3 separate regions of the Homo sapiens genome follow, and all the other regions are linked to region 3. Evidence: fine-mapped expression QTL. A gene starts in region 3. Each other region holds a variant in brackets. All regions are shown on one strand. Distances are between the middles of the regions. Region 1 has its middle 30 kb from the start of NEK6. Region 2 has its middle 19 kb from the start of NEK6. Region 3 holds the start of NEK6 (NIMA related kinase 6).

Region 1 (9,925 bases), 27 kb after region 3:
ATAGGTAAACATGTGTCATGGGGGTTTGTTGTACAGGTTATTTCATCACCCAGCTATGAAGCCCAGTACCCAATAGTTATCTTTTCCGCTTCCCTTTGTTTCTTCTTGAGAACTTTGCTAGTTTGTGTCTTTCAAGGAATATGCCCACTTCATCTAAGTTGTCAAATTTGTGGTCATAACTTTGGGCACAATACTTCCTTATTATCTTTTTAATGGTCACAGGATGTGTAGGGATGCCCTCTCTTTCTTTCTTTTTTTTTTTTTTTTTTTTTTTTTTTGAGACAAGGTCTTGCTCTGTCACCCAGGCTGGAGTGTAATGGCGCTATCATAGCTCACTGCAGCCTTGACCTCCTAGACTCAAGGGATTCTCCCACCTCAGCCTCCCAAGTAGCTAAGACTACAAACATGAGCCACCACACCCAGCGAATTTTTTTACTTTTTGTAGAGACAGGGTCTCGCTGTGTTGCCCAGGCTGGTTTTGAATTCCTGGCTTTAAGCAATCCTCCTGCCTCAGCCTCCCAAAGTGTCAGGATTACAGGCAGAGCCACTGCACCCAGGCTTTCATTTTTCTTGTTGGTAATTTGTGTCTTTTTTTTTTTCTTTGAGATGGAGTCTTGCTCTGTCGCCCAGGCTGGAGTGCAGTGGCACTGTCTCGGCTCACTGCAAACTCCACCTCCTGGGTTCAAGCAATTCTCCTGCCTCAGCCTCCCGAGTAGCTGGGACTTCAGGCACACGCCACCACATCTGGCTAATTTTTTGTATTTTTAGTAGAGACGGGGTTTCACTACATTAGACAGGATGGTCTCCATCTCCTCCCCTCGTGATCCTCCCACCTCGGCCTCCCAAAGTGCTGGGATTACAGGCATGAGCCACTGCACCTGGCCCGTGACTTTCTCTTTTCTACTGATTGAAGATGAAGTTTATCAATGTTGTTGATGTTTTCAAAGAGGCAGCTTGTGGTTTCATTTATTTTCTCTCTTGTTTTTCTGTTTTCTAGTCATTGATTTCTACTCTTATCTTATTATTTCTTTCTTTCTACCTGCTTTGGGTTTAATTTGCTCTTCTTTATCTAGTTCCTAAAGGTGGAAGCTTAGCAAATGTATTTATTTTGGGACTTTCTTCCTTTTGAATAAAGCCATTTAATGTTATAACTTTCCCTTTATTGTATTGCTTTATCTGTATCACATAGGCTTAGATATGTTACATTTTCATTGTTATTCAGCTCAAAATATTTTCTAGTTTTCTTTGTGATTTCTTTCTATATATATATATATATATATATATATATATATATATATATATATATACTTTTTTTTTTTTGAGACTGAGTCTTGATCTGTCAATCAGGCTGGAATGCATTGGCACGATCTTGGCTCACTGCAACCTCCGCTTCCTGGGTTCAAGCAATTCTTGTGCCTCAGCCTCCCCAGTAGCTGGGATTACAGGCATGTGCCATCACACCTGGCTAATTTTTGTATTTTTTGTAGAGACAGGGTTTCACCAGGTGGGCCAGGCTGATCTCGAACTCCTGACATTAAGCGATCTGCCTGCCTCGGCCTCCCAAAGTGCTGGGATTACAGGCATGAGCCACCGCACCTGGCTTTCTTTCTATATATTCTTTGTTGATGTATACAGGCATACTAAAAGTTTTTTAAAATCCACAGGTGAAAAGGATGCATAACAACTTCTAGATGGGTCTTATTGCTGGGAGTGAAGGGTAGATGGAAATGGGATAAGAAAAGCGGTAGATATTAACAATGCTCACCACCATGTCAGTTCTCTTCTGAGCACATGAGAGGATTATACTTCACTTCCCCTTCGAAGCTGGACATGGACACATGACTTGCTTTAGCCAATGAAATGTGAGGAGAACTGACACATGCCGCTTCCAAATGGAAACATCTAAGAGCCAGCACCTGAGTCTTCTTGCTCCCTTCCTTACCTGGTGAATCTTGAAGCCTTTTGCTGAGATCACAGCATCATAAATAGTGGAGCATCCCTCAGACTGGGTTCCTAAGAGACTACAATGAACATAGCCCAATGTAGTCAACCCTCACTGGATCGAGAATGCGATAGAAGCAGACCTTTGTTGTTTAAAGCAACTGAAATTTGGGGTTTGTTTGTTACTACAGCATAACCTAGCCTTTCCTGGCTAACATGGGGACCTTTGATTATATTTGTAAGTTTTTTGTTTGTTTGTTTGTTTGTTTGTTTTTTGAGACAGAGTCTCGCTCTGTTGCCCACGCTGGAGTGCAGTGGCGTGATCTTGGCTCACTGCAACCTCTGCCTCCTGGTTCAAGCAATTCTCCTGCCTCAGCCTCTTGAGTAGCTAGGATTACAGGCACATGCCACCACACCCAGCTAATTTTTGCCTTTTTAGTAGAGACGGGATTTTGCCATGTTGGTCAGGCTGGTCTCGAACTCCTGACCTCTTGATTTGCCCACCTCGGCCTCCCAAAGTGCCGTGGTATGAGCCACCGCGCCCAGCCAGTTTTTATTTTTTTACGAGCCTAAAGTTTCATTTTTTAACAGGGGTAGCGGGTACATGAGTATTTGTCATATAATTTTCTACACCTCCCGTATGTTTTAAGTAACTGTTTAAAAAAATTTATTTGTATATTTTTTGAAGACAGAATCTCTCTCTGTCACCCAGGCTGGAGTGCCATGACCTGATCACCACTCACTGCAACCTCCGCCTCCCAGGATCAAGCGATTATGGT[G/T]CCTTAGCCTCCCAAATAGCTGGGATTACAGGTGCACACCACCATGCCTGGCTAATTTTTGTATTTTTCATAAAGATAGGGTTTTGCAATGTTGGCCAGGCTGGTCTCAAACTCTTGGCCTTAAGTGATCCTCTTACCTCGGCCTACCAAAGTGCTGGGATTACAGACGTGAGCCACTGAGCCTGGTCTGTTTTAAGTAACGTTTAAAGGAAAAACAACATTAGAGGAGAGGGAGAAGAGAAGAAGGAGGAGAAGGCACCTGGGGAGGTGGGTCCTTTTTTCTATTCCCCAAGTCGTTTCTCCATCTATCCTCTGGGTTTGGGAAGTCAGTGGGGAAAGGTTTGACTGTTTCTCCAGCCAGATAATCATCTATGAGCAGTGGCCCCTCACCCTCACTCTGCTTGTCACCATCTGGTACATTACATATTTAGTGTATGGTTATTGTCTCTCTCCCCTTGAGAAGAGGGACTTTATTTTATAACCCCAATGCCTAGAACAATGCCTGGCACACAGAAGTCACTCAACACCTGCTTTTTTTTTTTTTTTTCTTTTTTTTTGAGATGGAGTCTCGCTCTGTCCAGGCTGGAGTGCAGTGGCCCAATCTAGGCTCACTGCAACCTCCACCTCCCAGGTTCAAGCAATTCTCTGCCTCAGCCTTCTGAGTAGCTGGGATTACAGGCGCCCGCCACCACGCGTGGCTAATTTTTATATTTTTAGTAGAGTTGGGGTTTCACCATCTTGGCCAGGCTTGTCTTGAATGCCTGACCTTGTGATCCACCCACCTCGGCCTCCCAAAGTGCTGGGATTACACGCATGAGCCACCATGACCGGCCAATACCTGCTTATTAAATGAGCACGTGCAAAAGATCGCCTCCCTCACCCATGTCTGCCTAGGGAGGACAGTGACCACGTTCTGTCCCTATTCCATGTTCCTTCTCACTTGCCTTTCCCCCAGAGTGAACACCCAGTGGAACTGATGAAAGTGTAAGCAGCTCTTTACTCAAAGGTCCAGATATTTGGCTAGGCATGGTGGCTCATGCCTGTAATCCAGCACTTTGGGAGGCCGAGGTGGGTGGATCACCTGAGGTCAGAAGTTAGACCAGCCTGGCCAACATGGTGAAACCTCGTCTCTACTAAAAATACAAAAATTAGTTGGGTGTGGTGGTGGGCCCCTTTAATCCCAGCTACTTGGGAGGCTGAGGCAGGAGAATCGCTTGAACCCAGCAGGGGGCAGAGGTTGCAGTGAGCCAAGATCATGCCATTGCACTCCAGCCTGGATGACAGAGCAGATTCATCTACCAAAAAAAAAAGTCCAGATATTTGTTCCAACACCATGTTTCTGTGTTTTGTGTGTGCATATGCATGTGTGAGTCTGTCCGTCTGGGGCTGGGATGAGGGGACTAGGGGCTGTGCCCCTCATGCAGCCATTTCCTTCTACTCTATTCCCTGCCCAGGTAGGAGTCTGGTTAAGTGCACCCCGAGAAGCATGGAGAGACCCCAACTCCCCATCGGGGCCACCCTTCAGCCTCCGGGAGGGGCCTGGAACTCGGCTTTCTCCAGGAGATTTGGGGAACATGTTACCGGGGTCCTTCAGCGGCCTCTCATCCACTTCTTGGCTGCAGAAATTCCCTGGCCACCTGGGCACGGAGACACTCTGGCTCCACCAGCCCACGCAGAAGCCTGAACTCATGTAATTAGACATAATGACACATGGCGGGAGCTTCCAGAATCTCACAATCTAATGACACACCCACCTCCCAACCCACCTCAGGGGCCAGCAGAGCTCCTAATTAGGTCTGGCGCCAGCAGGTGGGAGATCCAAGGGTTGGGGGAGCAAGGAGAGAATCCTGGCCTTGGGGTTTGTCAACCTGTGTGCCAAGTCCAGTTTGATTACTTTTTGACTATGAGGCGCTGGGCAAGTCAATTCACTTCTTCAAGCCTCCATTTTCTCATCTGTAAAATGGGGTTTTGTATTTACACCACAAAGTGCTGTTGTGAGGAGTGTGAGTTCCCTCCTGCTGGGAGGCTGTCAGTGGGTGGGTCTGGGGGAGACTGGCCTGCCATGCCCAAGGCCAGGGCCTGTGTCCTGGGGTGGGACCTCTTTCAGGTGTAGGGGAAGCTGCCACACCTTCAAAGGCCGATTGGACAAAAGGCAGTTCTCCAAAACTCATTGAAGGACCACTGCCTCATATTACCGAATTGACTGGTTTTTCAAAAACTTGTTTAAGAAATATTCTTTTTGGCTGGCATGGTGGCTCACTCCTGTAATCCCAGCACTTTGGGAGGCCGAGGAGGGTGATTCACCTGAGGTCAGGAGTTCGAGATCAGCTTGGCCAACATGGCGAACAAAACCCCATCTCTATGGGTGTGGTGGCACACACCTCTAATCCCAGCTACTCAGGAGGCTGAGGCAGGAGAATCACTTGAACCCGGGAGGCGGAGGTTGCAGTGAGCCGAGACTGCGCCATTGCACTCCAGCCTGGGTGACAAGAGTGAAACTGTGTCTCAAAAAAAAAAAAAAGAAAAATTTTAAAATTATGTTTAATGTACATTCTTCCAATGGCTATATTCCATTTTAAGGACTATTTAATTTGTCCAAAGTTCATAATACATTTGCTCTTCTAGTGCTCCTCCTCCTCTTCTTCTTCTTCTTCTTCTTCTTCTTCTTCTTCTTCTTCTTCTTCTTCTCCTTCTCCTTCTCCTCCTCCTCCTCCTCCTCCTCCTTCTTCTTTTAGATGGAGTCTCGCTCTGTCACCAGACTGGAGTGCAGTGGCACGATCTCAGCTCACTGCAACCTCTGCCTCCTGGGTTCAAGTGATTCTCCTGCCTTAGCTTCCTGAGTAGCTGGAACTACGGGCATGTGCCACCACATCCAGCTAATTTTTGTATTTTTAGTAGAGACAGGGTTTTACCATGTTAGCCAGGATAGTCTCAATCTCTTGACCTCGGGATCCGCCCACCTCAGGCTCCCAAAGTGCTGGGATTATAGGCATGAGCCACTGTACCCAGTCTATTCTTCTTAAATAATATCCTATGAATATGTTTTTCACAGTATCACATGGGAACTTTAGCTTTTAGACTGATTGTTTTTAAAAACCTCTGAAAAAAAGTAATTTTCTGTCTTATCAGAACTTTAGCATCTGAAGGATCCTTTGAAGATTTTGTTAAATGGTCAACTCAACCAATTATCCAAATTTACTGCTTATCTCAAAATGTATTTCTCTTTTTTTTTTTGAGACTGAGTCTTGTTCTGCCCCACCGGCTGGGGTGCAGTGGCATGATCTCGGCTCACTGCAACGTCTGCCTCCTGGGCTCAAGTGATTCTCCTGCCTCAGCCTCCTGAGTAGCTGGGACTATAGGAGTGTGCCCCCACGCACGGCTAATTTTTGTATTTTTGGTAGATATGGGGTTTCACCGTGTTGGCCAGGCTGGTCTCGAACTCCTGACCGCAAGTGATCCACCCACCTCGGCCCCCCAAAGTGCTGGGATTACAGGCATGAGCCACTGTGCCTGGCCTAAACATGTATTTCTTTTAATTATATTTTTATATTTTGATTTCACTTTCAAAAAATTTTACATGCATTTTGTTCTGCAAGACTTAACAATGAAAAACAGCTGTCTCCTGTCTAATCCATCTTTGCTCCCAGTTCCCAACCATCAGAGGTAACTGCTTTTTAACAAGAAACAAGTTTCTTTTTTATTTGCCTTTATGCTTCCACTGTTATCACATGTCTATACCGTTATTTCTGGACTTTCAGTTTTATGTATAATCTACTCTCTTCTTACTTTGGAAGATTAGAATTTGCTTCCCATACCACGCTGCCCCTACTTCCCCTGGTACCATCTTCCTTATATGATCATCTCATCTCATAATTTTTGGTTAGATAAATATTGGGGGTTTATTTTGTGGCCATGTGAACAGTGTTGATAGCCCAGCAATGTAGAGTACTGTGATTGCATTTATTCTCTTGTGCAGCTTTCTGTTTTTCCTAGAATTGTTCATTTTCTGTCTATTTATTTATTTAGAGATAGGCTCAAGCTATATTGCCCAGGCTGAACTGGAACTCCCGGGCTCCAGTGCTAAGCTAATATCCTGTTCTTCACTCCATTTACATCCCTAGTTTTAACCTGGTTCCATCGATGTTTCTTACCTGAAATAATAATTATGATCATATTTGACAAAGGTGGTTTTCCTTCTTTCTGTATGATTTGACATTCTACTGTCAGGAAAAGCTTTCTCTTCTGTCCGGTTACTTATTCGTTTTTTTGTTTATAGCAGTTGGAGTCAGGGGTTTCTATTTTATTCAGTGGGTTATCATTCATTGCTATCATTATTAATTTTGATTTTTCAATTACACCAGATTTGGTGTGGCCCCATCCAGCTGGCCCCTGTGTCCCTTTGACATGTCCACACTATGCTTTGAATGCTTAGTGACTTTTTGCCACAACAAGGTGTTCCAGGTTCATCTTGTTCTTCCTCTCTCCCAGCCAGGACTCAGCCTTCCTCCAAATGGCATTTTGAAAACAAGATCTTGGCACTGGGTATGTTCATTGCTACCAGAGCATTGCTGCTCCCATACCTTCTTGGTGAACAGAGCTGAAAATACACACACACACACACACATCAAATATGCATATATGTATACACATATGCATGCAGGTGCATATACATGTATATATATAGACACACCTTTCTGTCTATATTCTCTCTCTCTCCACATAAACACAGATTCTCACCATGTGTTCTCACTGAGAGCTCCAACTCCAGCCCAACACTATGGGCTTCTTCAGTTTCCTCCTTTTTTTTTTTTTCTGAGACGGATTCTTACTCTGTCACCCAGGCTGGAGTGCAGTGGTGTGATCTCGACTTACTGTAACCTCTGCCTCCTGGGTTCAAGTGATTCTCCTGCCTCAGCCTCCTGAGTATCTGGGATTATAGGCACACGCCACCACGCATGGCTAATTTTTGTATTTTTTAGTAGAGATCAGGTTTCACCACGCTGGACAGGCTGGTCTTGAACTCCTGACGTCAAGTGATCCGCCCGCCTCGGCTTCCCAAAGTGCTTGGATTACAGGTGTGAGCCATTGCACCTGGCTTTTTTTTTGTTGTTGTTGTTTTGTTTTTTTTGAGACAGAGTCTCACTCTTGTTGCCTAGGCTGGAGTACAGTGTCACAATCTCGGCTCACTGCAACCTCTGCCTCCCGGGTTCAAGCAATTCTTCTTCCTCAGCCTCCTGTGTAGCTGGGACTACAGGTGCACACCACCATGTCTGGCTAATTTTTGTATTTTTTAGTAGAGACGGTGTTTCACCATGTTGGCCAGGCTGGTCTTGAACTCCTGACCTCAGGTGGTCCGCCTGCCTCCGCCTCCCAAAGTGCTGAGATTACTCGCGTGAGCCACCGCACCCAGCTGGTTTCCTCCTTTCTGCATCTGTGCCTCCCTGCCTCATCAAGGAGAAACCTGAATCCTCTTGTCCATGCTAAGCTATACCTCTGCTCTGCCCCGGTGCATACCCATCTTTGATTGCAGCAGGCTGCCGCCCAGGTCCAGCCTCACAAGGGCCACTGTGACTGTCATCCTCGAGCCTCATGATTTTGACTGGATGCACTGAGAAAGGTAGGCAGGCAGGAGGAAGAAAGGAAAGAAGGGAGAGATACAGAAAGGCAGCGAAGGGGAGAGGGAAAAGACAGGCAGGCATGGGATGGGTTTTTAAAGCTTTAGAAGATTTCTTGGATTTTCAGGAATGTTCAGTTTGTCTCTACCCCATGTCCCTGATGCTGCCACTGGAGGGGAACAGAATAGAGATCTAAGCCCAGTCTGGGCTGCAGGTCCCAGAGGTGAGAGGGATCTGAAGGCCCCAGATCCTGACCCCCCGTAGCCATGATGGCCTTGCTAATTCATTTCATGCACACAGTGGGAACTTTTACAAATTAAAACAAAATGAAAAAAAGCTCACTGGGGTGGCTCATGCCTGTAGTCCTAGCACTTCAGGAGGCCAAGGTGAGCAGATCGCTTGAGACCAGGGGTTTGAGACCAGCCTGGGCAACATGGCGAAACCCCATCTCTACAAAACATACAAAAATTAGCCGGGTGTGGTGGTGCATGCCTGTGGTCCCGGCTACCTGGGAGACTGAGGCAGGAGGATGGGTGGAGTCCGGGAAGTTGAGGCTGCAGTGAGTTGAGATTGCACCACTGCATTCCAGCCTGGGTGACAAGAGCAAGGCCCTGTCTCAAAAATAAATAAATAAATAAAATGTTTTAAGTCGGGATAGATTTGTTAAGCTCAATGATCTGGTGATATGGCACAGTGACCCTTTGACTAACTGACTTAGCCACGGTAGGTGTGGAAAGGGAAAGTGGTCTCTACTCACGGGCTCTGGGGTCCCTTCCTTTTGCACCCACGGTAGCTCTGCTCATTTGCATTAGTACTGTCTGGCTTTGGATTATATTTCTTTTGATAAAGGGTTTGAAAGAAAACTGAGCTGGGCGCGGTAGCTCACACCTGTAATCCCAGCACTTTGAGGGGCCGAGGCGGGCAGATCACCTGAGGTCAGGAGTTTGAGACCAGACCGGCTAACATGGTGAAACCCTGCCTCTACTAAAAATATGAAAAAATTAGCTGGGTGTGGTGGCACGTGCCTATAATCCCAGCTACTCAGGAAGCTGAGGCAGGAGAATCGCTTGAACCCAGGAGGTAGAGGTTGCAGTGAGCTAAGATCACGCCACTGCACTCGAGCCTGGGCCACAGAGTGAGACTCCATCACAAAAAAAAAGAAAAGAAAAGAAAGGAAACTGAGCCTGAGTTCCAGTCCTCCTGGGCCTCCTTGCTGGGTGACCCTGGGCAAGCCTTTCCTTCCCTGAGCTTCAGTTTCCTATCTGGGAAAGGACAGGTTGGATGCTGAGTTCTGTGCATCTCAGTGTCAGGTGTGTTGCACACATAGCTGGGGACCAGCCACCAGTGCCCAGGGAGGGCCACCAGTTCCCCAGGCAGGGGAGGGAGGAACCACTTTCCCCACCCTCTTCCAGAGAAACAGGTCACTGGCTGGGCTTGGGCCTGCAGCCAAGGGGAACTCAGAGACAATAAGCCCAAGTCACCCAGCTGGCAGGTTGTGCAATTTCCACCAGCGCCTGCAAACAAGATGTTGGCCCCTGAACTTTGGACTCTGGGCAGCCTTCTCCCCACCCCTCAGACCTAAACCACCCA
Region 2 (9,925 bases), 17 kb after region 3:
TTTGAGACGGAGTCTTGCTCTGTCGCCCAGGCCGGAGTGCAATGGCACGATCTTGGCTCATTGCAACCTCCGCCTCCCGGGTTCAAGGGATTCTCCTGCCTCAGCCTCCTGAGTAGCTGGGATTACAGACGCCCGCCATCACTCCCAGCTAATTTTGTATTTTTAGTAGAGACAGGGTTTCACCATGTTGGCCAGGCTGGTCTCAAACTCCCTACCTCAGGTGATCAGGGCCTGAGAGGGGGATAGATAGGACCAGTGGTATGCTAGAGCTGGGGTACATTGGCTGGCAGGAGCTGATTATTAAATAAGAGCTGCTTATTAAATATTTGGGAGTTGCAAGGCAGTTGTTGGGAGCCATTACTTAATCCTAGTTCACCTCTCTGTTTTTGGTTCTGCTAGTAGTCTGCCCTATTGTTCTAGAAGCCTAAAGGGACAGTAAAGGGTCCCAGTATGAAAACCTTTGTACCTGGTGTATGTGACAAAAGATCTTCCACCTTTACAAACTATCGTGCCATCTTTCCTTTTCCATCTCCCTAAGTGGGTTTGGCAAGAGCCAGTGCTTTTTGCTCCCTGGTCTAGAAGTCCCATAAGCTGAAAGGGGAGGGGGAGGCCTGCGGTTTCTCTTTTCAGCAAAGGCAGAAGTCAAGCCCCTCACTCTCCCCCTCACCGTCTGGGCCCTTCTCCCTCTGGCCTGCACCGGCTGGTTGGTCATCTCAGGTTTCTGGAAGCCTGTGTTCCCAGAGGAGGCATTAAAGTTGGAGGAATGCAGGCCCTGTGAGTGACGCGTTAAGGAGGCTGTGCAGAGAAGCAGTCTGGGGGAGAACCCCCCCCAACTCCGCCAGCTGCGTCCCAGCCCTCACCGGAGAGGAAGAGAAAGGAAGCGGAAAGGAAACTGATCCAGCAGGCTCTCAGAGGACTTCCTGCATTCGTGTGTGGGAGGGGTGGGAGGCAGGAGGGCTTAGACCATCTGGAGGAGTATGAAGGCAGCGGTTCCTCTGGGGGCTTGAAGCAACCGTGGACCAGGGTCCCAGAGCAAAGGCGCTTGCTGGTTAAGATGGCAGGGGATGAACGTTTACTAAGCAGCTACTGCCTTCTAGGCATCGGAAAAGCGCCTTTACTTTCCTAACCCAACTCTAAGAGTGCCTTCCTGCTCCCAGCCGAAGACCAGTCTCTGCAGGAAGTTATAACCAAGAAAAAAGTGAAGCAGCCAACCAGCGTGCAGAGGCATAAGGTTACAAAACGTATCCAGCCCCAATCCAGCTCCCAAACTGCTGCAAAGCAAAGCTGCTCTTTCCTGAAGTTCACCTGGGACCCAGAAGAGGGGAGCGAATCGGTACCTCCCGCAGAAAAGCCTCCCAAAGCCTGCTTGGGCACCACACCCTCTCTCCAAAGATTGCGCCTCCTGGCACCTGCTCACATCCCTCCTCAATCGTGTCCCGCTTCCGCCTCTCCATTTCAATTTCTGAATCTCCACTCATCACCAGGGGCATCATAAACTCTGGTTTCCTTAGGACAGCCCAGGTTTATGGCTGTTTATTACTAACGGTGCCCCCTTTCATGCTCAAAGTGTCCTGGGAGAACAATCAATGATACAGCCTTCCTCCTCACTCACCACTGACCTGCAGCTTCTGCAAAAGTCCGGCTGCTGAGAGATTCTGCAAGCAGAGGGCACCTCATAGGAGGTGAGGGCGGAAGCAAGGCTCTCTACCACCTCCTTTTACTATTTTGTCTCCAGTCCCCAGAGTTTTTTCTTTTTCTTTTCTTTCTTTTTTATTTTTTTTTATTTTTTATTTTCGAGAGGCGTTTCACTCTTGTCACACAGGCTGAAGTGCAATGGCACGATCTCGGCTCACTGCAGCCTCCGCCTCCTGGGTTCAAGTGATTCTCCTGGTTCAGCCTCCTGAGTAGCTGAGATTACAGACATGCACCACCATGCCCAGCTAATTTTTGTATTTTTAGTAGAGACGGGGTTTCGCCGTGTTGCCCACGCTGGTCTTGGACTCCTGACCTCAGGTGATCCACCCACCTCGGCCTCCCAAAGTGCTGGGATTACAGGCGCGAGTCACTGTGCCCAGCTGCCCCCCCCCACCAGAGTTTTTCATTTATTCCATTCAACGCTAATCTCACCAATCAATTCCTTGTTTTGTAGATGGGGAAATAAAGGCCCAGAGCTTAGCACTTGGTCCAAGTCAAACACCCAGTCCATTTCCAAAGCAGAGATTCAAACTCAGCTCTGCCTGAATCTGAAGCCCTCACATTCTCCATGATGCCAGGTCAGGGAGGCTGGCAGAACAGGATCAGCCTGGGACATCTTCCATTTCCAAGGAAGCAATCAACAGGGTCCCCATGCCCAGAGGGGTCTGTGCCTTGCTCAAGGTCACAGCTCATCAGCAGCAGAGCTGGTGCTAGAACTTGACCCTTAAAACATCCCTGAGTTTTTCCTGAGCTAACAGGAGGCCTCAGTGCCACTCTAGGGGGAGGACTCAAAGCCAGGGAAGCTCAGGGAAGCTCAGGTCACCAGTGTCTCCACCTCCCACTGATTTGATCCCACTCATACATCTGAGCATTGGCCTCAGTTTCCCCACTCAAAAGGCTCTCTAGAGCCCCTTGGCTGAGCCTCTCTTCCTGACCCACCTTGCCAGCCCCTCTCCCAAGAGAATGGAGCCTGAGCCTGGACCCCTAGTAAGAGCTCTGCCCCATGTAGATGTCGTGGACCTGGGAGAGGAGGCGTGTCCAGACCCTGAAAACTCTCACTGCAGTGCCTGTTCAACTGGGTCACCAGTGTGGAGTGCCACATCAGAGAAGTCCTAACCGTGTCTCCCAAATGTAGTGGCATTCGAGACCCTCTCTGCTCTCATGCCCCACCTTCCCCCAACACATCTTATGCTCCAGCCGTGGTTTTTCCTGTCACCAGGATTGAGCACGTAGTGCTCCCTTTGCCTGGGGTGCCCTTTCTTCCCACTTGTCGAAAGAACTCTTATTCATCCGCCAGCACCCCAATCAATGCCCCTTCCCAGGGCATTCATCATCAGCTGGTAGACACTGGTGGGTGCTGTGGATTGTTTACAGCCAGTGTCCTTTCTGATTGGTCAGTGACTGTGACAAACAGGTTATTAAAGATTTAAACTCTCGCCCCCAGTCTCTGTCCCTGTGGAGTCTTCCCTGACCCCAGGCAGGATCCTCCTTCCCTTTTGGGGCCCCTGTGTGTCCCTTTGCTGCAGCCCTATCCCACGTGTGGCTCTGCCTGCTTAGGCTCTGTCCTCCTCCCTAGACTTTGTGCTCCGGAAGGGCAGGGACCATAACTGGTCCATCATGGTAGCTCCCCAGGGCCAAGCCAGTGCCTAGGCCAGAGCACTAGCACTTTAGGCACAGGTTTTACTCCTTGGAAGGGGGCTTCTAGAAGCTAGAGGAATGCTGAGAAACCTCCTAACAGCTCCCACTCCCTGATGAGAGGTGTTTCCTGTGGACTGGCCCCTTCCATAGGATGATGGTTGATCCCACTTTACAGATGGAGAAACCAAGGTGCAGAGAAGTGAGGGACATTGGCCAAGGTCACACAGCAAGTAAGGGATGGAACCAGGATTTGAACCCAGGTGTGAATCTGAAGTTCCTCCTCTTCCCATGCAGTCTCTTTGAATCCCAGGCAGCTATTTTTGGGCAAGGAAGATCAGTCTTAGCTCAGGGGGCTTTCCCAGGGCCTCCAGTACCCCTGCTCAGGATAAGGATAGGGGAACGATGGCCACTGATTTCCTCCATCAACTCACAGGGGCCCAGGCCGGGAAGGCTGCACAGGATGGACTGACCCTTTTCTCTGATCCCCACTCCTCAGGCCTCTAAGCCAGTCTTGGCCTTTGGCTGTCCTTGGTGTAAATTCCAGATAGGGATACCAGGAAGCAGTTCTGCAAAAGATGTGGGACTTTCCAAGACAAACCAAAAAGAGAAGACAGGAATGTCCCTCCCACAGGGTCACATTAGCACTGCCCACTGAGAACATCCTCTCTAGCCCTGTTACCCCCCACATGCCTGGCTCTTGGTTGCTCTCAGGGGGACTTCACAGTGGCTTGGTGGAGTCAGCCTCAAGACTTGAGCCATGAGATTTGGGTTCCAATCCTAGCCCCAGGGCTTGACTTGCCTGTGGCCTTGGTCAGCCACTTTACCTTGTTGGTAATTGCAGGCTTTGCCTGTGAGTGAAGGGATTGCTGGGGAAATTAAATGGAATAATAAGTACCAAGTGCCAAGTGCGTGACACAGGGTTAATGTTCCCTCCATACATGGGGATCGAGTGACACTCTAGAACATCTCTGGTCCTCCTCCCCTTCCCTGCCAATCTTGGTAACCTACAAATTCCCCAGGGAAGAATACCAAGTCTTCTTGCTTTAACGTGATCTGGTCTGACCTTCAGTCTCTGTGGGCGGGGAAAACACAGTTTCCCCTTTTCTCTGTAGTCTGGAGCCTGCCCTCTACAAGCCCACGTGGGAGGCCCTGGGCTTCTCTTAGATGAGATTATTGCGCAGGAGAAAGTCCCTGTACCCTTAAAACCATAGAAACTTGAGTCCTGCCACCTTCACCTCTATGCGGTTTGGACTCACACTTTTCAGAACTTGGTTGAGCTGCAAACCCAATCTATAAAAATTCCAATTTATTCAACACAAAGGCACACCAAAGGATTCACTGCTGGCTTCTTTTCAATAGTCAGCTCCCTTGCGTGTATTGTAAATGGGTCTCCTTTTATAGAACTTCAAATTCTGGACAACTTCTTAGATGCCTCTGTAGGGCCAACTAAGGTATAGTCTACCTGAAGTCCAGCCACATTCCAGCAGCCACCTGAGCAGACGTTTCAAATGGAAGCTTCTACCCTCAGCTCTACAGATCACAAAGCCAGCTCACACCTGGAACCACACTTGTGACTAAAGGGTTTTCTTTTAGGGTAATGAAAATGTCTTGGGGCTGGGTGCAGTGGCTCATGCCTGTAATCCCAGCACTTTAAGAGGCCAAGGCAGACACATCAGTTGAGCCCAGGAGATTGAGAGCAGCCTGGGCAACATAGTGAGGCTCCGTCTCTACAGATAATTTAAACATTAGCAGGGTGTGGTGGCACACACCTGTGGTTTCAGCTATTCAGGAAGCTGAGGTGGGAGGATTACCTGTGCCTGGGAGGTTGAGGCTGCAGTGAGCCGCGATTGCACCACTATACTCCAGCCTGAGTGACAGAGTGAGAACTTGTCTCAAAACAAAACAAAACAAAAACCAAGAAGAAAAGAAAAGAAAAAAAGAAAATATCTTTTAATTAGACAATGTTGTGCTGGTTCCACGCATTGCGAATGTACTGAAAACCACTGATTGTACACTTTAAAATGATTGAACCAGCCCAGCGCGGTGGCTCACGCCTGTAATCCGAGCACTTTGGGAGACCAAGGTGGGAGATCACAAGGTCAAGAGATTGAGATCATCCTGGTCAACATGGTGAAACCCCATCTCTATCCAAAATACAAAAAATTAGCTGGGCATGATGGAGCACTCGAGTCCCAGTTACTCGGGAGGCTGAGGCAGGAGGATCGCTTGAACCCTGGAGGCGGAGGTTGCAGTGAGCTGAGATCGCGCCATTGCACTCCAGCCTGGCGACAGAGCGAGACCCGTCTCAAACAACAACAGCAACAACAACAACATCAACAACAAAAAACAAAAACAACAACAAAACAAAAAAAATGATTGAACTGGTAAATTTTCTGTTATGTGTGTTTTACTACAAAAAAAAAAAAAAAAAGATGTAAGGATGCATCCATTCTCAGGAGCCGACCTTCACTTACATGCCCTGGGTGAGTACCTCTTTTTATTTTGGGTCCTGGATACCTCACTCGCCTTACCTAATCCTGGTCCTGGGGCCCAAGGCCTGCCCCATGGAGAACGAGAATTCTGTGTTTGCCTTGTAGCTTCTTTTGCACCCACCACTCCCCAGGAGAATCCTTTCTTTGGCCATTCAGGTTATGGGCTGATGCAGGAACATTTGAGGGGGGAAAAGGAAGAGAGAGAACTGGAAACATGAATAGCTTGGGAGCAGCCAAGAAATACTTGTTGGAAAAAAGAAAAACTATGGAGATAGGAAATGGAGAGCGGGAGAAATGTGAAGATTCACCTAGCTCAATATTTTTATTTAAAAAAAACAGCTTTATTGAGATATAATTAGCGCACAATCCACTTCATCCATTTAAAAAGTACAATTCAGTGTTTGTTTGTTGTATAGTCACAGATATGTGCAACCATCGCCACAGTCAATTTTAAGATGTTTTCGTCACCAAAAGAGAAATCATCCCTTCCCCCACCGAGCATCAAGCAACCACTAATCAACTGTCTATCTCTCTGGATTTACCCATTCTGGAAATTTCAGAAAATGGAATCAGATAATATATCTTTTGTGACTGGCTTCTTCCACTTAGCGTAATGTTTTCAAGGTTCATCTATTAACGAAATAAAAAACCTGTCAAACTATTTCCCAGTATGGTTGTACAGTTTTGCATCCCTGACAGCAATATATATTCTAGCTGCTCTACATCCTCACCAGCACTTTGTATTGTTAGTATTAAAAATGTTAGCCATTCTATAAGTGTGTAGCACTTGGTCATTGTGGCTTTATTTTGCATTTACCTAATGAATAATGATGTTGAATTTTTTTAATGCACTTATTTGCCGTCCATATGTCTTTGAAGAAGTGCCTCTTCAAAGTACTTGACTATTTTATTGTTGGTTAGTTTGTCTTCTAACGATTGAGTTATGAGTTATTTTAAAATTGTGGAGACCAGTTACTTATCAGACATTTTCTCCCAGTCTTTGGTTTGTCTTTTTATTTTCCCAACAGTGACTTTCATAAAGGAAAAGTTTTTAATTTTGAAGGCTAATTTTTCAATTTTTGACTTTTATGGTTTATGTTATTTGCATCCTGTTTAAATAATCTTTATCAAGATCACAAAGATATTTTCCTTTATTATCTCTT[T/A]GAAGGTTTATATTCTATTTAAGTCTATGATCCATTTGAAGTTCTTCATGGTGTGGGAGGTAAGGGTTGAGGTTCTTTTTTTTGGATATGGATGTCTAATTGTTTCTTCACCATTTGTTGAGAAGACTATTCTTTCTCCATTGAAATTACCTTGGTTCCTTTGTCAAAAATCAACTGACCAAATGGATATTGGTCTATTTCTGGAATCATTTCTGTTCCACTGATCCATAGGTCTAAGCTTACGCTATCACCATGCTGTCTTGCGTATAGTAGCTTTATAGTAAGTCTTGAAATAAAGTAATGTGAGTTCTCCAACTTCTTCCTTCTTTTTCAGAATTGTTTTGGCTATTCTAGGTCCTTTGCACTTCCATATATAATTTAGAAACAGCTTGTCAATATCTACCAAAAAAAAAAAAAAAAAAAAGCCTGCCAGGATTTTGATTGAAATTGCAATATCAATTAGGAAAGTACTAACATAATTCTTCAGAATTGTTAATATTTTGTTAAAGTAGTGAGTCTTCTCATCATGAACATTGTATATCTCTCCTTTTATTTAGATTTTTTTTATTTCTCTTGGTAATGATTTTCCATTTTCAATGTACAAATCCTATTTCATGATATTTGTCCCTTAACTTTTCATGTTTTTAATGCTATTGTAAGTGGTATTGGTTTTTAATTTCTTCTTCTTTTTTTTTTTTTTTTTGAGACACAGTCTTGCTCTGGCCCCCAGGCTGGAATGCAGTGGCTCAATCTTGGCTCACTGCAAGCTCCACTTCCCGGGTTCATGCCATTCTCCTGCCTCAGCCTCCCAAGTAGCTGGGACTACAGGTGCCTGCCACCACACCTGGCTAATTTTTTTAAATATTTTTAATAGAGACGGGTTTTCAACATCCGGTTTCAGCCGGATGGTCTTGATCTCCTGACCTCGTAATTCACCACCTCAGCCTCCGAAAGTGCTGGATTACAGGCGTGAGCCACCGTGCCCAGCCGATTTTTAATTTCAATGTTAAATTTTAAAATTACTGTTAAGTAGAAATACAATAGACTTTTGCATATTGGCTGTATATCTTACAACCTTGCTAAATTCACATATTTCTATTAGCTTTGTAGTATACTTTTCTATGTAGATACCATGTTCTCTACAAACACAGTTTCACTTAATCCTTTCCAATCTGCCATTTATTTACATATTTATTTATTTGCTTGTTTGTTGTATTGTACTATCTAGGACATCTAGTACAATGTTGAATAAAAGTGGCAACAGTAGAGATCTTTGCATTGTTCCCAATCTTAGTGGGAAAGCAATCTTTCATTATTAAGTATAGCGTTAGCTGTAGGTCTTATTGTAGATGTTATTTATCTGATTGTGAAATTTCCCTTCTATTTCCAGTTTGCTGAAAATTTCTTTTGTAAAAATCATGAGTAAATTTTTATCAAATGTTTTTTCTGCCTCTATTAAGATGATCATATAGTTTTTCTCTTGCCACTGCACTCCAGCCTGGGCGACAGAGCGAGATTCTGTCTCAAAAAAAAAAAAAAAAAAAAAAAAGGATGACTATATAGTTTTTCTTTTTATGTCTATTGATATGTTGAGTTACATTGATTTATTTTTGAATGTTGGACCAACCTTGCATTCCTGAGATAAACCCTACTTGGTCTTCATATATTATCCTTTCTGTACGTTACTAGATTTGATTTGCTAATGTTTTGTTAAAGATTTTTGTATCTGTATTCATTAGGGATATAGGCCTATAGCTTTCTTTTCTTGTATCTTTGTCATGCTTTAGTATCAGGGTAATTCTGAGTTCATAGAATTAGTTAGGAGTTTTGCTCTCTCCTTCTACGTTCTGGAAGAGTTTCTGTAGAATTAATATTTCTTTTAAAATAAATTTAACTAATAAAATTCACCAGTGAAGCCATCTGGGCTGGGAAATTTTTTCATGAGAAAGTTTTTACTATGAATTTCTATTCCTTAATTGATGTATAGGACTATTTGGGTTTTCTGTTTCTTCTTTTTTTATGTATATCAAAAATAGACTTTATTTGGCAATGGCGTATTTCAAGCATGAACACCATATTTTGGAAAACAATAGATTTGACACATATTTGTTACCTAATGTTTTCACAGCAGAAGGCTAGAACAAAATTTGACTTGCTTTCCACAGCTTTTAGAAATTTTTAACCGAGAATATCACTAAACAGCATGAAAGACATTTTCTTGGTGAGGCACTACTTTGCCAATCTTTTTTCACTCCTTTTTTTTTCCTTTCCATGTTTCTTTCTCAGCTTTTCTTACTATTTTTGCTTGGTTTTTAATACTTCAGCCTATTTCATAGACCTCCCAGTGACACCCTTAGGTGTTGCTTTATTTAAACAGTGTACTCAAAGCCAAACATATTATGGCTGGACACAGTGGCTCACGCCTGTCATCCTGGCACTTTGGGAGGCCGAGGAGGAAAGATCACTTGAGGTCAGGAGTTTAAGACCAGCCCGACCAACATGGTAAAACCCCATCTCTACTAAAAATACAAAAATTAGCTGGGTAGGTGTGATGTCACACACCTGTAATCCCAGCTACTCGGGATGCTGAGCCAGGAGAATCACTTGAACCCAGGAAGTGGAGGTTGCAGTGAGCCAAGATTGCTTCACTGCACTCCAGCCTGGGCCACAGAATGAAACCCTGTCTTACAAAAAAAAAAAAAAGACCGGGTGTGGTGGCTCACGCCTGTAATCCCAGCACTTTGGGAGGCTGAGGTGAGTGGATCACTTGAGGTCAGGAGCTCAAGACCAGGCTGCCCAATATGGCAAAACTCTGTCCCTTCTAAAAATACAAAAATCAGCTGGGCGTGGTGGCACACACCTGTAATCCCAGGTACTCGGGAGGCTGAGGCATGAGAATGGCTTGAACTGGTGAGGTAAAGGTTGCAGTGAGCTGAG
Region 3 (9,925 bases):
GCCACTGTACTCCAGCCTGGGCAACAGAGTGAGACTCTGTCTCAAAAATAAATAAATAAATAAATAAAAATAAATGGGGACCATCTATCGTGGTGCTACTTTAATGAAATTATGCAAGTCATGTCTCTGAACCTCAGTTTTATCATTTGTGAAATGGGGATAATAAACCCTATCTACGATGAGCAGAAAATGAACGGATGTGTGCTAAAGTACTCAGCACTAGGTCTGTGCACCTTAGCCAGTCAAATACCATATCCCAAGTGCAATGGAAAGAGGAAAGGCTGTGAGGCTGGGCAGGTGACTTCGGATTCTGCCCCCACCTCCTCTCAGCTGCCCCAGGACACAGGCTTGACCCCCGTGTGCCTCAGTTTCCTTGTGCACAAAACCAAAAGCATTTTCTGTCACAGAAGACCAACGGGAGATTCACACCCCCTAGAACGGCTCCCAGCACACAGCCCCTTCTGCTCCGCAAAAGGGAACTTCCTCCCCATTTCCCTCCTCTGCCCTTGTTCAAACCCACCAGAAATGCCACCAGTTAAAGCCAGGCGCTCCATTTCTGGAAACCCAAACAGCTCTAAATCCAGACCAACCTGGGTCTAAGGCCTTCAGTCTGAGACTTTATTTTGTGGAGATACAAACTACTTTTTAGTCATTTCCGAAGCAGACGGGACAGCAGAGGCTGACAAACCACAGGGACCATTTTAAATCCTGGGCCTTTTCTTCTGGGAAGTTAGGCAAGAACCTTCCCAAATGTTTGCCCGTCAGGCTCTCTGCCAGGGAGTGACTCATTCCACGGCTCCCCACAGGCATATTTTATTTGGGGGTGGGGGACGCAGCGAGGGCTTGGCCTTGATGGGGGAAGGAGAGGGGGCATTTCCAGCAAACCCAGAAGGTGTTTTCTTTTTTTCATTTTCAGGAGAAAAAAGAAAAAGAATGTGGGTCTTTTTTGCTTCCTTCCAGGTTTTGTTTGCTAAAAGAAGACGTCCAAAGTTCATTCGGTAAGCTCAAACTCGCTGAGTCCAAACTCGCTGAGTCCGGGGCAGGCGCTTCCAGACGGCTCTGCGTCCCTTTCAATGAAATTCTTCTTCCATTAACGACAGGGTTTTTAAACGTGCCTCCAAGACCTGCCTGCACGTACTGTACACCAAACTAAGGCGACATTTTCCCCCAAAAAAGGCAAGCTGAATTTGGAAAAGTCAGACCAACTAGGGAGCTCTGGAATTTCTAAAGTTTGCCTTAAAGCAATTAAGACTTTCAGCTGCAAAGATTTTCAACAGTTAGAGAGCACGCACACACACAAAAGCCTGTCAGTCAAAACTGCAAGGACAGACCTCGGAAGCTGGTGTCCCAAGCCCGCTGTGATCAATTTGTTACTGTCCTGGGATTCACACTTGGAGCCTAGGAGAGGTATAAATAAATCAAAAGATCCGTCTACTTAGCAGGGCAGGCAGAGAGGCCCCCACATACACAGGCAAGTCTAGGGTCAGCCCCCCAGGCCTGGCTGGAGAGAGACAAGAACAAAGACAGGAGAGCCTGGAGGATATTTAGGAAAACACACGTCCTCGGGTGCCCGGCCGAGGGGCCCACCACAGCCTCCGCTCGCCCAGCCTGTGTATGCAGAGAGGGTCCTGCCAGTGGCCCTGCCGCAGCCTGGCTCTAAGACCTTTGCCTCTGTCAGGCCCAGCCAGGCTCTGAGTCTGCCCTCCTGGCCCCTGGTTCACCGGATCAGGCCCAGCCCCGACCCCCAGCCCATGCCAGGCCGCTTCTCTCTCCACGGGCTCCCTGGCTCGGGGGCCATCACTGTGCAAAGGCCTGGTGGGCGCAAAGGGGGCCGGCCCCTCAACCTCAGTAATAAACACGCTCGCACGGCCCTGCACACTCGTTATACTCACACCCACACAGGCATACTTTCGCCCTTCTAGGCTCACGCATGTGCTTGCACACAAATCACTTTGGAATGCACACACGTGCACACACACACTCCCTGAGACCCGCACGTACTCCCTGCGGCGCCCGGCACACTCCTCCGCCCGTCGTCCCCACTCGGGAAGTGGGTAGCGGGGAGCCATGCCCGCGTCCCCGCACGCACTCACCCCAACAACGCCACCAGACGCTCCGGGGTGCACACGCACACCCGCCGGGGACGCGCACACCCCGGGACACGCGGACACGCCGCCCCCGCCCGCCCGGCCGCCGACACGCTCAGCCCCGCGCGGCCACACTCGCGCCCGCCTCCCGCTCTCCCCCGCGGAGCCGTGGGCGCGCGCCCGCCCTCGGCCCGGCTGGGGGTGACGGCCCCGCCGCCCGGCCCCCGCCCTTCTCCGGGCCGCGGGGCCCCACCGGCCCGGCCCCAGCCCCAGGCGACTCACCGGCGCGCGGGCGGGCTCGGCTGCCGCTGGGGGACCGGTGCGCTGGCCCGCGGGCGGCTGGAGCGGTGCGTCCCACACGAGTTTGCGGCGCAGCGGCCGCACGCCCGTCAGCTCGGTTCCGCCGCCGCCGCCACCGCCTGCGCGGGCCCGCGCGCCCGCGCGCCCGCCCCTCCCCGCCGCGGGGCCGCGCCGCCCCCAGCGCTCGTGCGCGCTGCCGCCACGCAAGCTTGAGGGGCGGGGGGCGCCCCGGCGGCGTCCTTCCTGGGCCTGGACCCCTCGACTCCGCCGAGTTCTGCGGCCGATCCGCTCGGCCGAGGAACCCCTTCCCCATTTCAGAGATGGGAAGACTGAGGCCCAGACTCACAGGGCGCAGGCCGGCGTCTCCCCATCTTCTCCGGCTCTAGACTTATGATGAGGGTCTGCAGTCAGCCAACCCTTGGACTCCTGTGCGTCTTCGGATTCCCCATCGCCTAGCATTGCTCCTACCACAGCCCTAGTCATACTGAAATTGGCACAGTAACAAGCACTTATTGTGCACCAGCTGAATGCAGGCACTGAAGTAGGCTCCAAGAGTATTCCGATGAGGGGAAGGCCCTGCCCCCTGCCCTCAAAGTGCCAGCGACTCTTCATCTGGAGCTCCCACTTCCTGTGGCCCCCGGGGGACCAGCAAGAGCCAATGTGCAGAGGTTTCTGGAAGTAGTAAAAGTCCCCACTAAAGAATGTTGAACGCCCCCTCTAGAAGTCAGAGCCTCCCTGAGACCCAAGCAGCTCAGTTCTCACTTCACCTCCTCCCCGCACCGAGAGCGGCCGCTCCTGGCTGGGCTGTTTCCACCCCTGCTGCCTCCCCTCCACATTCAAAACTGTGCTGCACCCCAGGAGGGCTGGAGCCAGGGACACTGACTGCCTGCTTGGGCGCAGCACTGTACTGGGCACAGGGTGAATGCCCGTCTGGCTTCTGTTTGCCAAATGAGTGGAAGTGCTTCAACTGGCCGTGATCTGTAATAATGACACCAACGGAGCGTCCACCACGTGTGCCAACGTTACCCTTGTGCCCATTTTACAGATGGGCTTTGAGGCTTAGAAATGAAATTTCAGGCTGGGTGCGGTGGCTCACACCTGTAATCCCAGTACTATGGGAGGCTGAGGTGGGAGGATGCCTTGAGGCTGGGAGTTTGAGGCCAGCCTGGGCAATATAGCAAAACCCCATGTCTACAGAAAAATGTAAGAATTAGCTGGGTGTGGTAGTGCCTGCCTGCAGTCCCAGCTACTCGGGACGCTGAGGCGGGAGGGTCTCTTGAGCATAGGAGTTAGCAGCTGCAGTGAGCTATGATCGCACCACTGCACTCCAACCTGGACAACAACAATAAAAAGCAAATTCTTTTGTTCAAAGTCACCCAGATGGTAAGTGGTTGAGCTGGAAAGTGCACGGCAGATTGTCTAATTCCAGTGCCTGTGTGGCCAATCACTAGGCAGCCCTGCCTCAGGAACAGCATAGCCCTGGGCTTCTGGAACAAGAGGGCAGACGAGGCAGCAGCTGGCCCACAGGAGCGGGCCTGGTCCCAGCTCTTGTGGATGAAAATGCAGACATCACAAACCAATGGGGAGGAAATGGATTGTTCTGCAAATTGTTTAGCCGTTTAGCTGGAGATCTGTTTACAGCCTTGCCTCCCATGATATACACCACAATAAATGTCAGACAGATTGAAAAGTTAAATAGAAGAAATAAACACTGCAACAAATAATAGAAAGAAATCGAAGTTCTGAGACAGCGTATTGCAGTGTTACTAGAGGATTTGTGATACTGGCCATATTCATGCAGCAAACATTAGTTCAGTCATTGGTTCACCCGACACATCTATGAGCACCTTCCATGGGCCAGGTACTTTTCTAGGCACTGGGATAAAGGAGTGAACAAAATATGGCCCTTTCTTGGGGCTTCAGTCAAGGGGGAGGGATGGGGTGGGAGGAAGACACTGAATATCTGCCATTTCAAGGATAAGAAGTTTGGGCCGGGCGCGGTGGCTCACGCCTGTAATCCCAGCACTTTGGGAGGCCGACGCAGGCGGATCACAAGGTCAGGAGATCGAGACCATCCTGGATAACACGGTGAAACCCTGTCTCTACTAAAAATACAAAAAAATAGCCGGGCATGGTGGCAGGCGCCTGTAGTCCCAGCTACTTGGGAGGCTGAGGCAGGAGAATGGCGTGAACCCGGGAGGCGAAGTTTGCAGTGAGCCGAGATCGCGCCACTACACTCCAGCCTCAGTGACAGAGCGAGACTCTGTCTCCAAAAAAAAAAAAAAAAGAAGTTTGGTGGAGAAATAACTCGGAAGGGTAGGAGGACCCAGGGGTGCTTTTTTATAGGGGGTGCTGGAAGAAGGCCTTTCTGATGAGGTGACATCTGAGCAGAGGCCTGAATGAGGGAGTGGGAGAAGTCAGTAGGGGCCCACTGTGTGGAGGGCAGGTCCCATGTTCTGGCAGCTATTCAGTTAAGCTACAGAGCAAGAACCAGAAACTCCCTTTTGAAGGAAACTTTGAGAGCCGCACCAGGCCACTGGGAGGAAAGGACTGCCCCCACCCCCAACACACAATATCTATGTAAGACTTTACTGCTTGCAAAGCCCTTCCCCAGCTTCACAGAACCCGTATGACAGATACTTGTGATGTCCTCATTTTCCAGTTAGGAAACCGAGGCTCAGAGAGGTCAAGCAATCTGTCCCAGGTCACACAGCCAATGATAATCAACAGAGGTAGGTCTGGCTGCAGGCAGGCTGAGTGTTAGGGGAATAAAGAAGCCTTGTCCTGGGATACAGGAGTGAACAAAAATCTAGCTCTGACTCTCTTGGGGCTTCAGCCAAGGTGGGAGAGTGGGATGGGAGGAAGACACTGTGAATGTCTGGCATTTCAAAGATAAGAAGTTTGGTGGAGACCAGGCGCAGTGGCTCACCCTGTAATCCCAGCACTTTGGGAGGCCGAGGTGGTGGATCACCTGAGGTCAGGACTTTAAGACCAGCCTGGCCAACATGGCGAAACCCCATCTCTACTAAAAATAAAAAAATTAGCTGGGCATGGTGGCACGTGCCTATAATCCCAGCTGCTCGGGAGGCTGAGGCTGGAGAATTGCTTGACCCCAGGAGGCTGAGGTTGCAGCGAACTGAGATCATGTCACTGCATTCCAGCCTGGACAACAGAGCAAGACTCTGTTTCAAAAAAAAAAAAAAAAAGTTTGATGGAGAAATAAAGCAGGGATAGGTAGGAGGACCCAGGAGTGCTTTTGCATTGGGGGTCCCCCTCCCCCTTGGATGGGAGCAGGGTAGGGGAGGCCCATGCACCCCATTTTCCTGGCCTTCCTCCTCCTCCATCCCTCATGGCCACTTCTTTCCCTCTGTCCTGGGCCCTGTGCAGATGGTCCCAGCTCCTGGTGACACTATGGGGCAAATATCAGGGTTAGCCTGCTCAGAGATTCTTGAATTCCCTGCAGTACTCTGATACACTGACGAGGGCACAGTAGAGTGATAAGGTACAATGCAAGCTGAATCCCACTCAACTTTTGTTTTTAACTCAAAGGAGTTTTTAGGGAGTCCCAAAATGAGTCATCGTGAAGCAGTGCTTTGCAAAATGACACCCAGAATTAGGATGAGCGTCTCCCTGCACACGTTGCCTCACACTTCTGCCCACCGAGGCGTTGTTCAACTGGTCTGGGAGAAAGTCTGTCTCCGTTCACCCCCAAAGAGTTTCAGGATTCAGTATGTGTTGTTTCATTATTTCTCTGCACGAAGGGAAGAGAAACTACCGCTTGCCGGGCACCTTCTCTGCATCTGGCTCTGTAAGAGACAGTTAATTCTTATAGCATCCCTTGAGATAGGGGTCATGATTTATGTTTTATAGATGAAGAAACTGAGGCTCAGAAAATAGCCAGGATTTGAATCCAGGTTAACTCAAGTCCTTTATTGTTGTTAGTATTGGGGGAGGGGGTAATGGGGGAGAGAGGAGAGGCAAGAAGAACTTAGAATCAGGCCATGTTCCTTTGAAGTTCCTTTGTTACAAAATATCTTCTTGCCATCTTCCCGGTAATGGGATTTTTTGTAGGGGGTGAGTTCCAATTTTCCCAGAAGGATTCATTCGCTCTTGTCATCCGGGTGCGATTATTGACAGCAACCCCTTTCCCTCTGCAAGTGTCTTGCTTTGGATGATCAACTTTAGGGTCACCTTGGGTGTCTGCAAAGGCCACTGCGTTGGGGGATTCATTTTTTACATTATACAAAATGGGGGTGTCTTGTCTGCTGGGCTCTTCGCCACATACTGATGTCTGGGTGTCCCACCAAGAACTTCCAGGAGAGTTTAAGCAGTTAAGTCACATTTTTAGGAGCAGCAAACCCTGCTGGCTGCAGAAGGAGTTGGGACCCTCTCCACCTCCTCCCCAGCCCTGCCACCACTCCCTGTGTGACCCCGGGCCACTTCCTGCCTAGCACAATGTGGGGATGGGTCTCCAAGAGTCCTGTCAACCTTGACCTTCTAAGATTTCCTGTTACTTGATGACCCGGGGGAATTTCGGTCAGGATAGGGATGTAGGAGTCATCACATCATCATATGGCTCACTTTATAAAGTAGCTGGCTCATTTTTTGTTATTTAACTTAAAAAATGTTTAATTTGTTGCTTGAATAGATAATACTTGCCCACAGTTCAAAATTCAAAAGGCACAGAAGGGGACAAAGTGAAAAGTGTCCTTTCTACCCCTACCTCCCAGCCACCTGGTTCTTATCCCTGGAGGGAGCCAACGTTGCCGAATATATGCTGTCCTAGACAGTGTGTTTTGTGTGGGTGTGTATATATGTATGCACGTATATATGGTCGTGTGTATGTGAATGTATATGTATTTCTTCTTATTTTTTGCTCATATAATAGCATACAATCTACACTATTGTGTATCTTATGTTTTCTTCACTTCTTGGAGACCATTTCCTGTTGGCTCCAGAAAAACTGCTTCCTTTTATATGACTGCATAGTATTCCAAACGATTTGCATTTAATTCACATAGAGGCTGGGCGAGGTGGCTCACGCCTGTAATCCCAGCACGTTGAGAGGCCAGGGTGGGTGGATCACCTGAGGTCAGGAGTTCAAGACCAGCCTGGCCAACATAGTGAAACCTTGTCTCTACTAAAAATACAAAAATTAGCTGGGGGTGGTGGCGGGCAGCTGTAATCGCAGCTACTCGGGAGGCTGAGACAGAAGAATCGCTTGAACCCAGGAGGCAGAGGTTGCAGTGAGCCCGAGACTGCACCATTGCACTCCAGCCTGGGCGACAGAGTGAGAGTCTGTCTCACACACACACACAAAAATTCCACATACAGCAAGCATCTGCTCTGTTTAATCCGCATAGAGCAAACACTCTGTGTACTGTTCTAAGTATTGTGGGAGAGAACAGAAGTTTCAGCCATGGCCCCTGCCCTCAAGATTTTATGGTCTGGTTGGGGACAGGAACATTGGAGAGGAAGAGAAGAGTACTCTCTCCACGGGTCCCCATGCCTGTATATGAGGTTAGCTTTGGAGCTAATTTTTAAAACTCTCTGCTCCAGGCATCTGTAGAGTTGTTTTAAGAGTCCAGACATAGGTTCTTTTGAGACTTGAAAACTCAGTCTGCCTCTTCTCTGCAGTTCAAGTTCCTGCCATCCATTTCCCCACTGTGGGCCTCAGTTTCCTCATCTGTCAAAGGGGGGCAGGCAGCCTCTCTTGCAGGATTGGGGTAGTCGCCTGAGATTGTACTCCTGAAAATGCTCAGTGAAGAGTTGGAGGCTGTGCTCCAAGGCTAGAGGATCTGGGAAGAATGAGGTGGGGCTTGGAGGAATACTTTAAGTGCAGTGTGTCATCGGCTCTTCCTGCCGCAGGGAAGCGTCGGCTCTTCCTGCCGCAGGGAAGCATTTTGTCTTTCATGCGTTGCTGATCTTGTGACAGGCCTGCTAACTGGTTATCTCCTCCTGCCTTTGGCAGTGACTGCTGCCAACTCTGAGTCCTCGCCCGACACGGTTGGAGACCCCACTCCCCAGGTGGTTTCTGGAATGTGGAAAAAAAAGAAGTTATCAAGGATTATCATTCCCACCCTCACTTTACAGATGGGACTTGCTCAAGGCCACACAGCCATCAAGAGGCAGAAATGTACTCTCTGATTTCCCACCTCCCCGCACCTCCCTGAACTTCCCTCTACCACCCGCTCTAATATCTGCTGTTTCAACTAGCAGACTCAAATCCTACGGCCTGCAGGGAGCACCATGAACTGCATATGAACTGCATTTCCTGTCTGTTCCCTTACCTGATACTCTCAACTGCACTTTGAGGTAGAGATTGTTGCCCATTGTACAGATGAGGATACAGACTCAGAGACCACGAATACTAAAATCACAAAGGAGTTGGTGCGATGTCAGTCGCCCAAAGAAACTGTCAAAATCATTGTGCTCCTCAGGAAGAGAGTAGGAGTTTCTGGCTGCTGAGAGGCAACAGACATGGCAATGGGGTATTGGGGGAATGTGATTTTGGCCTTTGAAGGTGTTTTGCAAGCTCACAGTACACTGGGACTCTATCCCCGCTTGCTTTCTGGCACCTGTTCTCTCCTGATGCTGAGTTGAATAGGCCGATCTGTTGCTGGCTTCGTCTCTCTCCTCCCATGAAGCAGGAGTGTTGATGGATATGCCTTGGCTTCCAGCAGCTGCCCAGAGCCTGGCACAGGAAAGACCTAGGATTCATGGTGTGACCAGTGAGCCATATGATGGTGTGATGTTTCTTGCATCCCAATTTTTACTGAAATTCCCCAGGGTCATCGGGTAACAGGAAATCTTAGAAGGTCAAGGTTGACAGGACTCTTGGAGACCCATCCCCACATTGTGCTAGGCAGGAAGTGGCCCGGGGTCACACAGGGAGTGGTGGCAGGGCTGGGGAGGAGGTGGAGAGGGTCCCAACTCCTTCTGCAGCCAGCAGGGTTTGCTGCTCCTAAAAATGTGACTTAACTGCTTAAACTCTCCTGGAAGTTCTTGGCGGGACACCCAGACATCAGTATGTGGCAAAGAGCCCAGCAGACAAGACACCCCCATTTTGTATAATGTAAAAAATGAATCCCCCAACGCAGTGGCCTTTGCAGACACCCAAGGTGACCCTAAAGTTGATCATCCAAAGCAAGACACTTGCAGAGGGAAAGGGGTTGCTGTCAATAATCGCACCTGGATGACAAGAGCGAATGAATCCTTCTGGGAAAACTGGAACTCTCTCCCAACAAAGAATCACCTGTGCCTGCAGGATGGTCCTGGGTGATGCCTACTGTCCTGGCATAATTAATAATAGTACCCCCTGGCTGGGTGCGGTGGCTCACACCTGTAATCCCAGGACTTTGGGAGGCCAAGTCAGGTGGATCACCTGAGGTTAGGAGTTCAAGACCAGCCTGGCCAACAAGGTGAAACCCCGTCTCTACTAAAAATACAAAAATTATCTGGGCGTGGTGGCACGTGCCTGTCATCCCAGCTACTCGGGAGGCTGAGGCAGGAGAATCGCTTGAACCCGGGAGGCAGAG

The links. PIP is the estimated chance that this variant, and not a neighbour inherited with it, causes the effect.
Region 1: its variant is fine-mapped to the expression of NEK6 in nasal epithelium (TOPMed, PIP above 0.99).
Region 2: its variant is fine-mapped to the expression of NEK6 in whole blood (TOPMed, PIP above 0.99).

Annotation. Positions count from the first base shown.
Region 1 is chr9:124,223,438-124,233,362 of GRCh38, reverse strand. No RefSeq gene overlaps it. Among named protein-coding and RNA genes, the nearest start is that of NEK6, 30 kb to the left of the region's middle. The variant G/T (reference allele first, on the strand shown) is at 2,721.
Region 2 is chr9:124,233,938-124,243,862 of GRCh38, reverse strand. No RefSeq gene overlaps it. Among named protein-coding and RNA genes, the nearest start is that of NEK6, 19 kb to the left of the region's middle. RefSeq lists enhancers at 311-827, 828-1,344, 3,910-3,959, 4,090-4,139. The variant T/A (reference allele first, on the strand shown) is at 6,989.
Region 3 is chr9:124,250,530-124,260,454 of GRCh38, reverse strand. It overlaps NEK6 (NIMA related kinase 6), which reads right to left and starts at 2,506. Exons shown (of 10, transcript NM_014397.6): 1 at 2,370-2,506. It overlaps LOC613206 (a long non-coding RNA gene), which reads left to right. Exons shown (of 2, transcript NR_149024.1): 2 at 961-1,245. RefSeq lists enhancers at 944-1,889, 5,635-5,724, 5,755-5,844, 5,855-6,234 and silencers at 1,927-2,296, 2,357-2,486, 7,971-8,265.